Linked DNA regions of Homo sapiens: regions 1 and 2 are each linked to region 3. The links come from fine-mapping of genetic effects on gene expression. A gene starts in region 3. Each other region holds a variant in brackets. All regions are shown on one strand. Distances are between the middles of the regions. Region 1 holds the start of LOC124902464 (a long non-coding RNA gene). Region 2 overlaps KCNMA1 (potassium calcium-activated channel subfamily M alpha 1). Region 3 holds the start of KCNMA1 (potassium calcium-activated channel subfamily M alpha 1).

Evidence for each region. PIP is the estimated chance that this variant, and not a neighbour inherited with it, causes the effect. A credible set is the group of variants that fine-mapping cannot tell apart.
Region 1: its variant is the best candidate, but not a certain one, in a credible set for the expression of KCNMA1 in monocytes (TOPMed, PIP 0.77).
Region 2: its variant is the best candidate, but not a certain one, in a credible set for the expression of KCNMA1 in monocytes after interferon gamma (Fairfax 2014, PIP 0.89).

Annotation. Positions count from the first base shown.
Region 1 is chr10:77,535,160-77,540,238 of GRCh38, reverse strand. The region is part of intron 1 of KCNMA1 (potassium calcium-activated channel subfamily M alpha 1); the gene reads left to right. LOC124902464 (a long non-coding RNA gene) reads left to right here and starts at 2,218. Exons shown (of 2, transcript XR_007062205.1): 1 at 2,218-3,313; 2 at 3,526-5,079. The variant T/C (reference allele first, on the strand shown) is at 2,162.
Region 2 is chr10:77,560,220-77,565,298 of GRCh38, reverse strand. All of the region lies in intron 1 of KCNMA1 (potassium calcium-activated channel subfamily M alpha 1), which reads left to right. Among named protein-coding and RNA genes, the nearest start is that of KCNMA1, 75 kb to the left of the region's middle. RefSeq lists enhancers at 1-174, 175-1,031 and a silencer at 1-208. The variant G/A (reference allele first, on the strand shown) is at 2,955.
Region 3 is chr10:77,635,896-77,640,974 of GRCh38, reverse strand. KCNMA1 (potassium calcium-activated channel subfamily M alpha 1) reads left to right here and starts at 3,167. Exons shown (of 28, transcript NM_001161352.2): 1 at 3,167-3,710. The coding sequence starts at 3,333.

The sequences.
Region 1 (5,079 bases), 100 kb after region 3:
TTCTAGGCATGTGTCTCTTTGGCTGTGACCCTGGATCCAAAGCTTTTGGGGACTGAGTGTGGATGTGACTGCTCTGCTCCACCTGGCTGGGACATAGCAGGACAGGCAGCAACCCAGGTCTGTGAAATCAATCATGATGATTCTGGGAGGAATTATTGGTGAATTAGGGGGATGCTCCAAGGGATGGTCCAGATGGAGGTAGGTGTAAAGTGGAGTTTTGCTGGAAGGAGTTGTTTTTGCACAACATATTGATTTCCTTGGGGTGGGAGAAAAAAGAAACAGCAGCTCTTCGCTGCTCTCCCAGAGTGGTGGGTAGGAGAGGACAGGTGGGAGTCTGTGGGCCCCTTTAGCTGGTTATTTTTTTAGATGTACCATCAGGTAGCTGCAACTGTATTCCCACTGCTTCCCCAGCAATGCAAAGGGCAGATTACGAAGCAGAGCTGGGCTGGCAGCAAGTTTTGCTTTGCTTTCTCCCAGCGGCCAACAGCATTTGCATTGGTGGGTGGTGCACACACTCTGCAGAGAGAGGGCGATACCCAAGCCCAGGGCCCACAGACTGAGCACAGAACAGAAAATTAGGGCTGGGAATTCACCCGTGGCTCCTCAGTGTCTGTGTTGCCCATCTCTGATAGACTTCCAAAATAGCAGGGGCCAGGAATTTGGTGGGGACACCTGGGGATGAGGGGCCCTGCCAGAGCTGGGTTCATTCTTGAGGGAATGTCTCCCAAATCTGCCATTTAAGAGGATAGAGTTTCGGTCCCCAAGCTCAATTCTGCCTCACCTCCATGCTCCATTATCTGGGTATCCCCAGGCCACTCACTTATCCCACCCATGTCTATTCTCTTACCTGTAAAACTAGAATTGCAGGTATTTTAGTGGATACGTTGTTGGGAGATGACTCATAGGTTTTGATCCCATCTCCATCTCTGCATTATCTTGGACAAGCAACCTGACTTAGGTGCTTGCTTGTCTTTAAAATGCAGAACGTTAGTACCTATCATGCTAGCTCATTGGGAAGTTGGGAATGGCAAATAAGAGAATGGCCTTGCAGGCTCTTGAGGGAACAGAAAAGAGAAAAGTGGGTTCCTCAGAGACATATGCTCTTACCTAGGGTGGGGGAGCTGGTTTATGAATGGTGTAAGTCTCAGAGTCTCCAGCTTCTTCCCTAGGGTCCTCCCGGACCAACCAGCCTGTATTGGAGTGTGTTCAGCCTCTTGGGTAGATGTAGGACCGTGGGTGGTGACATGAAGGAGACAGGTTACTGCTCAGCAGGAGGGGGGACCTATGTACGGAGCCTCCTAGCCTCAGAGGCAGCTGTTACTATGCAGAGCCTTCATGCTGAGCCCTGTGCTAACCACTCCACACACACTGTCCCCTGAATCAGTCTTGACAACCAGCCCTTCACAGGCAGGGAGCAATGGGATTAGATGCCTTTTGTGGCACGAGAACAGGTTCATAGAGGCCCTCTGTTGGGTCAGATTTTAACTCCATATCCTTAGGTTTTAAGGAGATCCATGGAGTCTGTGGCAGAGGGACCAAGGTGGGGGAGGGGGTGCCATTGATGGATCATAGATGGGACTCACCATCTAGCTGGGCTGTTGAGGACTCCATATTAGCCTGGGAGTTTAGTACTGGCATTCTCCAAGACACACGTGAAGAAATTGAGGTTCAGAGAGGTGACCTTGCCAAGGCCACACAGCTAGTAAGCTGTGGAGCTGGGATTCTAACTCAGATCTGGTTGACTCAGAAGTCCAGCTGGGGGTAATGATGGCAATGAAAGCTCTAGAGTTGGAAGAGACCCAGACAAAGCGGGTTTGGGGCTGCTTCAGCGACCAAGGATCTTGGGGAGAATCCTGGCCCACGAGACCACAGTGGATTCACCTGGGTGCTGCTGGCCAAGAGTTTGAGTGTGAGTGTGTATGGGTATGTGTAGGGTGTAGGGTATAGCACATGTATGCAGTGTGAGTGTAGAGTATGTGAGTGTGACAGTATATGTGTGTTTGTGAGTGTGTAGAGTATGTGAATATGAGAGTATGTGTGAGTATGAGTGTGTCTAGTGTATGTGTGTGTGTTTAGAGTATGTGTAGAGTGTGTATGTGAATGTAGAGTATGTGGGTGTGTGTGAGTGTGTGTAGAGTATGTGAATGTGAGAGTATGTGGA[T/C]GTGTGTGAGTGTGTGTGTAGAGTATGTGAATATGAGAGTGTGTGTGAGAGTACGTGTAGAGTATACGAATGTGAGAGTATGTGAGTGTGTGTGTATGTGCGTGTGTATACAGTGCCTCCCCAAAGGCCCCACTCCACCAGCAGCCTGCCCATCCATCATCATAACGGGCGTGGAAGCCCATTCCATTCCTGCTGAGCCCTGCCAAAAAATCAGTGAGGGAGAGCCAGGAAGAATGTGCGCCGGGAGGAGCAGGCAGCGTGTTGCAGTCCGAACGGCCCACTGTGATGATTTGGGTGACGATGGGGCCAGCGGTGCCACCGAGACTCTGATGGCTCCTTAGGAGTTGTTATAGTCACAATAATAGATTGTTCTCTGTTTCTCAATGCTAGGTCCATTCTTTAAAATTTTTTTTTCTTCCTTTAGAGGCAGAGGAGGAGATGGAGAGTTGGTGAGATTAGGATTTTAGGTGTCTTCAAGTCAATTCTGAAACTCTAAGAAGAAATAGAGAATTCTGAGTGATTTTAATTTTTCTGCAGTCATGGGGGGAATTTCCATAGGGAAGATGCTTTCCAAGGAAGCTCATGTGTCTTGGACTCTGAAAGAGCCCTTCTCAGGCCTGGTTCTGGCATTTGTCCATGGTTTGGGGAAGGTGGGCCCTGGGTGGGGGCAAGGATGTGACTTTTGGAGCAAGGTGTGGGCACTGTAGGCTCAATGTGGTTCTGCTGGGGTGGTGTTCTTGTGGCTGAAGAATGTGTCCCCTGAGTTGGCACAGTGATGCATGACATAGGATGGACCAAACGGAAGGCATTTCCTGTCACTGAAATTAAAGGAGCAGGGGGGTGGAGGGGAAGCAATGGAGCAGAAGAGGAGTTTGGTTCTAGGAGCATTCAGAAGTCTTGGGAGTGTTGGGTTAGGTGACACAGTTCCTGTCTGTCCTGGGGCTCTATGTACTCCCCCTGGAGATTTCACTGGAACTGGTGATGTCCCGTGTTTAGGGCTATCTCTGGAAAATAAATATGAACATAAAATAATAAGAGGCTGAACCTACGAAGGAAATGAACTAAAGTCAATACACATTTTTCCCAGACACCATACAAGGTCCTGCAAATCACTGGGAAATGAATGGGACACAAGACATCACACTCCATGCGGTGAGCTTTGTGTTTGGTTTTTCCCAGTCATTGGCTGTGGTGAATCATGTGTTCTCCCTGTGTTCAAATGGCTGTTGAGAGAAAGGTGTGGATGTTGGCAGCTCTGGGGAGGAGACCAGTGATGACACCAATTGAGGGTGCACTATGGTGTTTAGATCATTGGCTTTTAAAATTTAGTCAATGACTTCTGAAGTGGGCCTTTTTGCTTCCAGCTGACAGACATATCAGAGTGCGGGAGACAGAGTACCCAATTCCAACCCCAACATCCTGCCCACAAGCTGTGGGAACCTGAGTAAGTTACTCACCTCTTTGTGCCTCTACTTCCTCATCTCTACCTGGGGGAGGCAGTCAACGTACCTAATGTTATTTTCATAGTAAGGCTGTTGCACAGAATAGATGAGTTCGTAGGTATGAAGCCCTTAGCTTTGTATCTAGCACATTCTAAATGATAAAAATATTGGCATTACTGTCACTAATGAGGATATTGAAGATCAGTGAAGTGAGGGAATTCTCCCAACACTGGGAAGAAAGACCACAGCAGGAAGTAAGCTCTGGGAAAGCCCATGCTGTCTGATTCTAACAAGAAGGATGCTGGCGTCCTCCTGCTCCGAGATGCCAGGAACTGTGGCCTCAAACCTGAGGGACAATTCTAAACTCCATCTCTAGACAAAGAGTAGTTGCCAAACCAAATAATTCCGCAAAATACACATGCCAGTGCATTTTCCTTTCTTTGTCTTAATTTTTATGGATACATAATAGTTTTATGTATTTATGAGGCCCCTGTGATAGTTTGCTGTGAGCACACAATGTGTAATGATCAACTCTGGGCACCTGGGATACCATCACCTCAAACATTTATCATTTCTTTGTATTGGGAGCATCCCACATATTCTCTTCTAGCTATTTTGAAATGTAGAATAAATTCTTGTTAACTACAGTTGCCCTGTTGTGCTACTGAACACTAGATCGTATTCCTTCTATCTACCTGTATGTTTGCACCTATCAACCAATCCCTCTTAATATCCCCTCCCCACTACCCTTCCCAGCTTCTGGTAACTACCATTCTACTCTCTTGCTCCATGAGATAGTTTTTTAGCTTCCACATGAGTAAGGACATGTCATATTTGTCTTTCTGTGCCTGGCTTATTTCACTTAACATAATGTCCTCCTGTTCCATCCATGTTACTGCAAAGGACAGAATTCCATTCTTTTGTATGGCTGAATAACATTTCATTGTGTATATGTACCACATTTTCTTTATCCATTTGTTCATTGATGGACACTCAGGTTGATTCCGTATCTTGGCTATTGTGAAGAGTGCTGCAATAAATACAGGAGTGAAGAGATCTCTTCTGTGTGATTGCTTTTCTTTTGGGTATATACCCAGCAGTGGAATTGCTGGATCATATGGTAATTCTATTTTTAGTTTTTTGAGGAACCTTCATACTGTTTTCCATAGTGGCTGTACCAATTTACATTCCCACCAACAGTGTATGAATGTTCCCTGTTCTCCACTTCCTTGCCAGCATTTGTTATTTTCAGACTTTTTGATAATAGCTGTCTTTTAAAAAACTGAATTATAACTACTTCCATCCGTATTTTTCGGAAGGAGGGGAATAAACTTCTTGGACCAAATCTGATGAGTCCTGAGATATGTGGGGTAGATGAACAGGAGTCAATGGTGGGACCTTTTGACTTTTGAGCCCTGGTTGGAGTATTTTGGGATGTTAGAGCGTCCTTCTGGAATTAAGATGTGCTTAGTAACT
Region 2 (5,079 bases), 76 kb after region 3:
AGGGAGTGCTTACCATCCGCGTTGTCCTCTAAAACGGGAATGGGAGGGAATCCCTGGAATCCCTGGAATCCCTGAGCCTGGAGGGATTCACAAGGGGAAGGTAACCACTTGCAGGAGGCCAGTGCTGGGTGCAAGGCAGGAGGACTAGGGGACACTTAAGGTCCAGCCTAAAGAGGACAGTCACTGAGAGTGGCCCTTGATGGGGCTTCCACTGGGACAGAGATGGGTGCTCCCAGAGGGCGATTTGGCCGAGAGGCAGTGGCTTCCCTTCTCACCGTCTGCCTGACTCATTGCCCTTGCCTCCTGGCCACTCTGCCAGCTTTCCTTCACCCCCTGCTGCATATCCTGCATGCAGCTGCCCAATTAAGCTCCCCAAATACTGATTTCATGATGTCACTGACTCCTCTGAACTCCTTTTACCTCCCTTTGTGATCAGAAGCCTGAACTTCTGAACTCCTCTACTCCTAAGCCAAAGAGTCCGCCCTCTGACCCCAGCTTGTCTTCCCTCTGCTATCTGGGAGTCTCTCCTCTTTTCCACTTAGTTGAGTTCCTGGTTAGTTCAAGGCTCCATTCATTCTTTCTTTCACCTAGATGCCAGGAGGAAGCTGCGAAGGCTGAGACATAAAGACATGTCACCTGCCCTCAAAGAGCGCTTGGTCTTGGGAAGGGGCATGCATGAAATCACCTTTTTTACATTTAAATTTAAATTTATTTTTGAGACAGAGTCTTGCTCTGTTGCCCAGGCTGGAGTACAGTGGTGTGATCTTGGTTCACTTCAATCTTTGCCTCCCAGGTTCAAGTGATTCTTCTGTCTCAGCCTCCAGAGTAGTTGGGATTACAGGCATGTGCCACCTGTAAAAAAAATACCTGGCTAATTTTTGTATTTTTAGTAGAGATGGGGTTTCACCATATTGCCCAGGCTGGTCTTGAACTCCTGACCTCAAGTGATCTGTCCGCCTCGGCCTCCCAAAGTGCTCGTGTTACAGGCATGAGCCACCATGCCTGGCCATGAAATCACCTTTGATCAGCGTGGTGAGAGCCACTTCAGGCTGCATACAAAGCCTTCCTCTTGCAGGAAGCCTTTATTGATTGCACTGTCACTGTGAATTCACTCTTCTCTGGAGGCTGGTGAATCCTCATCTCTGTTCTTCTCTTTTTGTTCCTTGTTTTCTGCCCGGTATAATTCACTTTCTTTTATTGCCAATATCTCTTGGACTTTAGCCCCAAGGAACATACCACACTGCCTGGCACTGTGCCATGTGCCTAATAATAAGGAGGTACATTTATATTGAGCTCTGATTCTGAAGCCTGTTCACATCTGTGATTCCCCTTACTTTGCATAACAGCTCTCTGGGACAGGTGGGACAAATGTGATAAGCCCCAGTCTGCAGAGCAAGAGACGACTTGCTTATGGGCACACAGTTCATAAGTGGCAGAGCCGGGACCAGGGACTGGAGTCTTGCCGTGGGTGTGCTACGCGGCCCCACAGAAGGATGGATGCATGGAGTCCCATTTTGTGGACTCCCCCCTGGGCCTGCAATGTGTAGGGATGTGTTAGGGGAGGATGAGAGGGCAAGAGGGGGATCTGTGGCTAGAATTCCGGAGGTTCGTTGGAACCAGGGAGGTACATGGGGTGACTTGAACCCCAAATCTTTTCATCTAGGCATGACACTCCCTTTTTCCTCTATGGAGACTGGGAATAGCAGGATGGAGGGAGGGTAGAAGGAGTAGAGGAGTCAGTGTTGGGGCTAGGGCTGGGAGGGACGGGGTAGAAGAGAGCAAGTTCTGGGGACAGAGGGCAGTCAGGAGACCTGTCAGTTCTCTCTGGGTAGCCTGGACTCTCGAGAGGACTGAAATGCATCAAAGGATGGGTAATGAAAAAATGGTGATGAGGACGGGTTGCCTTATCACCCAGAAGGGAGGAAAAGCTTCAGGCCCAACCATCCTGCTTAAACATTTGAGAATTCTATGCGGTTCTTTTAAGTATTTAGAGGTACTGGGGACAATGTGTCCAGAAAGTGGAATCCCAGCTCCTTCTCACCCCGGCTATTGATTTTTGGCCTTGCAATTACTGCAGAGGTGCTGCCTCTGTGAACACTATTAGTGCTAGTTGGAAAGCTTGAGCTTTTGAAGCTTAGCTGTTTGAGCTACCTACGGGTTTGGAAAAAAAAAGAATCTTACCATGTGTTTCTTTAGCCTGGGCATGAATCAAAAATAGTTGAACTTTTTTTTTTTTGCTCAAGTCTCAAGTTTAAAAATAAAAAAGTCACCTTTGGGCTGAGATCAAGAATGGAAAATTTCAGGGCATAGCGTAATTTTTTCCCCATCTGTTCTGGGCAAGGGATGATAAAGCATTCTGTTGGAAGATTGTGTGTAAGCATCAACCATGAGTCTCACTACTTTATTGCGTTGCAATGTCTACTTTGTTAAGATGTCTTGAAAGAAAGACTTCTTCCATCCTCCTGGCACAACTGAATGTGCTTGGTATGGGGAGACGTGTCTAACTGAATCTAAGCAACTAATTGGAATAGGCAAAGGAGGAAGTGATGAAAGTGAAGCTGCAGTTTCTGCAAAGGTGGCTTTATTGTATAAGGTGCAGGTTATTACCCCAAATGATCAATTACTAAAGTTCTGGATTGGGCAGTGACAAGTGTCTAGAGGGAATGCTGGGCCTAGGGAATTGCATTGTCATGTGAGAATAAGGCTGGGGCCACCTTTACATTTTCATTAAAAAAAGATCTGGACAGTACTTGACTGTGGTAGTAGACTTTGTAAAGGTTATTATGGTTACAGCTTTGTTTGCTTGAGATCCTCTATTTTTATAGTTCAATATTATTAAGGTATGAAGAAACTGTTTTATGGATGTCAGTTTTACTGTTTCTGACAACAGCTTGCGAGGAAGTATACATTTGTGCAACAGACCGCTTTGGATGTTAATTCTAAATTTAGAAGCC[G/A]CCTTCAATGGGTGTGGAAATCAGTTACACAAAATTCAGGTGCTTACTAAAAAAAATCTGAATATCCATGAAGCTTGTATGGTCCCTGGTGGAACTTTGAGCAGCTGAGCCTCTCTGAAGATCCTGAGGTTGTCAGGGTGTGGCACAGCAGCTGGGGGCTGGGCCCCGTGCATGCACATCAGCATCTGTGTATTGAATATAATCAGCACAGATAGGGAAGAAACAAACCACCACCACCAAACACCCTAAGTACCAATCTGGGCATCTGGGCACCCTGGATTTTCATTTTGACTCTGTCATTTACTAGTTCTCTGACCTTGGGCACCATGCTTTGCATAGCAGCCTTGGTTTCCTCATTGGTAAAATGAGGCTGTTGAATTCTATATGGCTCAAGAGTTCTTTCCAGCCCCGAAACATGCAAAAATTCAGTTTCGACTAAGAGCTTTAGCACTGTCTTATCTTGGCTGTTTGCAGTGGCCAAAATTGATAACATATTGGAAAACTTCCCTGCTGATTAAAATAGACATTGCCCTAAGTGCTGTGAGTGTCCCTGTTACCTTATCCCTTCTCTGAAACCCTCTGGGTTTCCCCTTGAAGCAGCCCCTAAAATGGCTCAGTTTCCAGCATAGCAGGAGGTCTCCAGCCTAGCCAATGGTGCCCCTTGTGAAGGTCATGGACCTGCCTTACCCATTGTTAAATGTTTTCCATCCCTCTGGTGTACGTGGAGAGCTTCTGGGTGGAGTGGACACAAATGATTTAACTTTCCCGAGTCTCTGCTTCTGCGCCAGAAAGTGGAAGGAATCATAACCAGTGTAGTGGAGGTAATTAGGAGGGTCCAAAGCTTGGACCATCTGGGTTCAAACCCTGGCCCCACCACTTAGTATCTATGTGAGTGTGGGCATGTCAGGTAGCCTTTCTTACCTCAATTCATAATCCGCAAAGTGGGGATGAGAATAGCACCAACTGTATCAAGCTGATGATGAGATCAAATAACACACAAAATTCTTAGAATAGAATAAGCACTGTAGAAGTGATAGCTCTGTGTATGTCATTAATACATTCACTGGTATCACTGAACTTTATTTTATATCAAGTGAGATAACTACTATACCATCCAGGGAGATAATGTGTGTGAAGCCCATAGCACAATGCTTGACAAATAGTTTTCAGGGAATGTTAGCTTCTATCTAAGCAGGTCCCATTGGAAAAAAAAAAAGTTGTATTTTTATATAGTTCTAGTTAGTTTCTCATCTGTGATCTATGCTATTTTTAATTGAAAAAAAAAAGTGTTTCCATACATTGTCAGGAGGAGCCGTTCCCCTGTCCCAGCCTCTCACAAAGCACACCCTCACTCCCTCATTTTTCCAGTAGTCCCAGGGCTAGACCACCTGTAGAGACAGGAAGCCTGCCTAAAGAGCAGAAGCATCTGCTCAGAAAGATCTAGTTGTTTGCTGGAGCCTCAGCTTGAAGAAGGCTCCAAGTTTATTATAAAGTCCCAGCCACACAGTTTGCTTGAGACTTTATAAAGAGAGAATGAGATGTAGAGGCTGGGCCCAAACCCACTACCAGGCTGTGGGAATGGGGGATGGGGTGCTTGGCTGGCATCTCTTCTCAGGGCCTCCTGGTCAGCCTCAGGAGATCTAGTGCTAAGGGTTACTCTGCTGGGGAAAATCTCAATGGCACTAGAGACCACTTGAGCACAGCTCTTAGGAACTGAGGAGCCAGCTACTTAGCATCCCAGAATCCCAATGCCCATGGCCAGAGCCAGAGCTGCTTAGAAGAAAAGCAAAGTCCGCAGGCTGCATGGACTGAGAACCACCTCACCTGGCTGCACATTCTCTGAGTGGCCTTGACCATGCTGTTCTCTGAGCCTCAGTTTCCTCATCAATGATAGAGTGGAGTTAGCTAGATCAGGGGCTTTCAAAAGCTTTTTCCCCTGAAACCCAGAATAAGAAATACCTTTTCTTTCTCAACCCAATACTTATGTTCATGTATGTAATTAAACAAAAGTTCCATGCAGCAACCCTTTTAATATGCAGTACTCTGTTTTCTGTGCTGTTGTTTCAGTTGAAAAATGCTGATTGTGAATGATTCAGTTGATTCTGTGACCTGCTGATGGGTCATA
Region 3 (5,079 bases):
CTGACCTCAGGTGATCCCACCGCCTCAGCCTCCCAAAGTGCTGGGATTACAGGAGTGAGCTACCATGCCCAGCCTTCTTTTTCATCCTCACATATAACCCTTCGAGGTAGGCAGGGAAGTTTCTGGCTTTATTTTGATTGTATAAATGAAGAAACACATCAAATCAAAGATACCTAAGGTTCCTTTTAAGTTTGAGGTTCTGTCTGTGCAGAGCCTTTTCCTAAATTTGTAATGCCAGGGGCCAAGTTTTCTGGAAGTGGTGCAAAAGTTTGTGAACAATGTGGAAATGGCCAGAGAGAACTGGGCAAAGGCCTGGGAATGTCTATTTCTGGTGGATGGTAGCACTCTCTCAGTGCTTACCAGCCAGGCCATTCAGGGAGGAGGTGAGAGACTGGGGATTGTAGGAAGGAAAGGATATTGACATCAACACTGAGAGTTTCTGATGATTCCTGACTAAGCCGAGGCTTTGGACAGCACAGAAGTTGCTAAAAGCTTCAATCAGCAGAGGCAGGGGTGATGAAGAGAGCAGGAGATGGCATCTGAGGGGCCTCCAAGCACCCTCTCCAAAGATGCTGAGGTGATGAAGGTGATGATGGAGGAGAAAAAGCTATAGATCCTGCAGTTGGGGTGACAGAAGTCACGGCCATCGGCTGCTTACCAGTAGACCCCAGACTGGCATTTCAGGGGAATCCAGGCTGTAGGGAATGTCTAAGAAGGCCCCAGAGGGGATTTGCTGGTTTGCAAAATTTCAATTTTGTGGGTGAGGGAATCCATTCTGGAGGTTTCATATCCCACTGGGGAGACAGTCCTATCCTTTGCTGCCCTTTTTATGTTCTGGGTGTTTTATTTTTAAATTTCAAATCTTGGCCTTGATTTAAGGAATGTCCTTAACTTTCTTGGCATTGCTGAGGCACAAAAGCAGCAAACTACAGCCATTGAGAGGCTAATAAAGGAACCTCAATGCCATAGTCACCTTCCTGCGCATCCCCACAGCACTTCTGGGTCCCGCTCCCCCAACCCAGTACCAGAAAAGGCCCAGGGCCTTTGCATGCTTGGGTCTGGTGTGGCAGGGATGCATTCAGAGTGGCTGAACACAGAGGCCGAGGTTGGAGGTACTATGGGATGGTATGGAGAGGAGGCTCAGACAATTCCATTTTCTGGAGCACACTTTCTGCAGCTCCCTTTTACATACACTTCTTTTTGAGAACCAAATACTCAAGAACTCTTACCTCATTCCATTTTCTCCTTTGACTTTGGCCTTGACTCTTTCTTAGTGGATGTGTACTCTAAACCCAATGAATGTATTCCGAATCAAGCAAGAGAGAAGCTTCAAACATCCTCTTCAGCCTCTCTGCCCAGCTCAGCCTCCCTTGCTCGCTCTTCCTTCCAGAGACCTCCAAGGACAAGGGCAGGGCTGATCTGACTCTCACGGAGACAGCCTCAGGTGTAAAGCTAAGGATGCTAACTTGGGCCTTTTCCATGGGAAGAGCTGAAAGGAACCTGAGAATTCCAATTAGGCTTAAACTAATGAGCTGGAAACTTTGGGGAAACCACTGCAGCAATGAGGGAAGAGCGTGATCATCCTCGATTTAATTAGCGCTGGAAAAACTTGGGGTCCAGCTGGTAGCACGAGGACGGACGCTGTTCAGGGGGCGCAAAGTTTCTGAAAGTGTCAGAAGGGGGATTCCCCTGGTGGTGTACGGAGACACGCTACGGAACAAACACGGACTCCTTCTTCATCTTAAGTGGGGAGAAGGGAAGACCCTAAATGGGGAACGGTGAGCCAGAATGAAGTCTGGAGTCCCTCTTCCCCCATCTGCCCTCCTCACGGGATGGATGGAGTCTGAGACTATATGAGAGGAAAGCAACCCTTCAGGGAACTCTATTGTCTATCGGGGCCTGCACTATCCCCAGGCCAGGTCGTCCTTGATCATTTCTGCCTACTCTTTGTTGGGCAGCCTCTGTTGCTAATAAGGAAAAAGGAGAGAAACCACCTGCTGCTGTCAGAGGCCACAGACCACCCGCTGGCCTTCCTGACTCTACCCTCCAGCCACACGCGGGACCCTGGGCACATAGGTAGCAGGAAGAGCGAAGTAGGGGTGGGTAGCTGTGTGTATCCTGGCGTGGGGTCCTCCTCACTCCCGAAGCCCGAGGGTCCTGGGGAGCTCAGCCTGTGGAATCCAGTTGACAGCTGGCCACTCCTCCCCTCCCCACTGGGGGCTCTTTGGGGAAAAAAACGGCCTGACCGGGGCGCCCCGCCGTCCTCCCAGTGTACCCCACCGCTCTCGGCTGGGGGCGCAGCACCTTGGAGAGAGGCGCCTGGCCCCGCGCCTGGGCTGGGGGCGCTCTACCTTGCGCCCTGGGGGTCAGGGGCGCTTGCCGGGCCGCTGCCGAGGGGCCCTGCCCACCCCTGCCCAGCCCGGAGCCCAGGCGAGCCAGCGCGGCGAGCCTCCTCCCCTCCCGCCTGGGTCGTCCTGAGTCCGCGCCCGCTCCAGTTGCTGCAGCTGCTGCTGCTGGCGGCTGCGGGGAGCGCGGGGCGCGCGCCGAAGAGGCTTGGGCGGCGAGGACGGGGACGAGGAGGAGTCGGAGGCGGCAAGGAGGAAGAGCGAGCGGAGGCCGAGGGGCTCAGCGGCGTGGCGACAGGACTAGGGGGTCCCGAGAACATGGGCTAGCAGGCGGCCACGGGCCGGCGGCCGGACGCGGTGAACCTGCCGCGGCCGGGCGCGCACTGGCGCGGCGAGCCGGAGCCGAGCGCAGCCGGGGGAGGAGGGCTGGCGCAGGGGCGCCCGGGCGGAGGGGGCCGATTATCCATTATTAACGAGTTACCACCTAATAAGCGGAGAGCGGCTCGTTAGCCGCGCGGGAGGCGCTCGGGGAAGGGGGTCACCGGCCGAGCGCAGCGCACACCCGTGGCGCACGGCGGGCGGCGCGGCGCCGAGGACACCCGGGACCGCGCGCGGAGCCGGGGCGGGCCCGGGGGCGGCGCAGACCCCGGGCGCGGGCGGCCCGCGGCGCCCCCTGGCTCTCGGCGCTCGGGGCCAGCGCAGCCCGGGGCGAGCGGGGCGCGGGCCGGGGAGGGGGAGCTGCCCGCGCACTCCATCCCCCTCCCCCCCGGGCGGGCGGCGGCGGCTCGCTGTATATATCTCGGCGCACCCCGCCAGGTCGCGCACAGCGCCCCGAGCCCAGGCGCCTCCCCGCCCCCCTCCCGCGCTCCGCGGCGGCGGCGGCGGCGGCAGCAGTAGCAGCAATATGGCTGTTGATGGGTGTTTGGGGTGGCGCTGGCGGCGGGAGGAGCTCCCCCGAGCCCCTGCGCCGGCTGCCCGTTGCTAGCTATGGCAAATGGTGGCGGCGGCGGCGGCGGCAGCAGCGGCGGCGGCGGCGGCGGCGGAGGCAGCAGTCTTAGAATGAGTAGCAATATCCACGCGAACCATCTCAGCCTAGACGCGTCCTCCTCCTCCTCCTCCTCCTCTTCCTCTTCTTCTTCTTCCTCCTCCTCTTCCTCCTCGTCCTCGGTCCACGAGCCCAAGATGGATGCGCTCATCATCCCGGTGACCATGGAGGTGCCGTGCGACAGCCGGGGCCAACGCATGTGGTGGGCTTTCCTGGCCTCCTCCATGGTGACTTTCTTCGGGGGCCTCTTCATCATCTTGCTCTGGCGGACGCTCAAGTACCTGTGGACCGTGTGCTGCCACTGCGGGGGCAAGACGAAGGTAACGCGCGCCCCGGGCGCCCGCCCTCTGCGCCAGCCCCACCGCTTCTCGGCGTCCCCTGCAGCCCACCTCCTCGCTCCGCGCCGCGCCGTGCCTCCCTCCATCCCCGCCTGCCTTCCCCTCGCCGCCTTCCCTTCCCTCGGCTCTCCCGGTGCTCTCGGATCGGGGCAGCGGGCGGCGCGCCGGGGGTGAGGAGTTGCCCCCAGCCAGTGCGCTCCGGGACGCGGACGCTCAATCCTGTCCTCTTGTTTATTGTAGGGTTGTTGGCGGCTGCGGCTGGGGCCGGGGTCGGGGACTCACAGGCTCGGGTGCCGTGGTGCGGGGTGGGGACAGCCAACTCAGCGGGGACGGAGGAAGCTGGGGGCAGCTGGGTGCGTGTTTTGCACCGCTCACCTGCCGGGGCTCGGCTCCTGGCGGTGGGCGAGAGGGAGCACATCCGCCCATACTTTAGGAACCTGTTGGGGAGATGAGTTCGTGGGGTCAGAAAGAAGGGAAAAATCCTTTGGGCAAGGGAGAGAATAATTTTGCACAAGGGAATCCCGGGGGAGGAGCATGGCCCGAGATAACAGGGGGACTTCGAGGGGCGAGAGAAGTTGGGGAGATCCATCCCACTATTGGGGGTAGCCCACGGGGCTGCCACTTTTGGAATGTGTCGAGGTCGCATATCTGATGTAACCTCCCACTCCGTCCCTTAGGTGCTCTAGTGGAACATACCCCAAGTTCTTCGGCCTCTGTTCCTTTGCCCCCAGGCCACCCACTTTGGGTCCCCGGAAATGCCACCAGCAGCGCGGAGCTGGAGCGGGAGTCCGCCTGAGGCCGCGGTTTTACGCGGAGCGTCTTCCCTGGCGCTCGAGGTGGCTAGATGTCGTCGGCTTTAGCTATTCCTGGTGCAGACGCCCACCGGCACTGAGGCTGGCGACACCTTCGATGTATGGTTGCTAGGCTCACTGCCTGGTCTGTAGTCGTGTCCCTAGAGATGTCTTCCCTTCCCCACAGCCACTGGCTGGAGTGGGGGACCCGACACTGATAGAAAACTGCAGAATAAAAAAGAAAGAACTGGAAAAAAGAGAGTGAGCCAGCTGCCTTCTTTCTGAGTAATTCCCATCCTAGGGGACTTCACGCGCGAACCGTTTTGGAGGGAAGGGAAATCCAGGGGAATAGTGCAGGGTAGATACACATTGCAGCCTCCACATGTTCACATCTTTTCTAGTAAAGTTAAACCGAGGACCCCTCAAACTTCTACAGGGCACAGCAACTTGTAGCAGCCTCCTTGGCGGCTGAGAGAAGTAGGGAAGCCTGGGGCTATGGGTGAAGGCTGGCTATGAAAACACCAGGGGGGAAGGAGCCTGTCTCTCCTGATCATTAATTA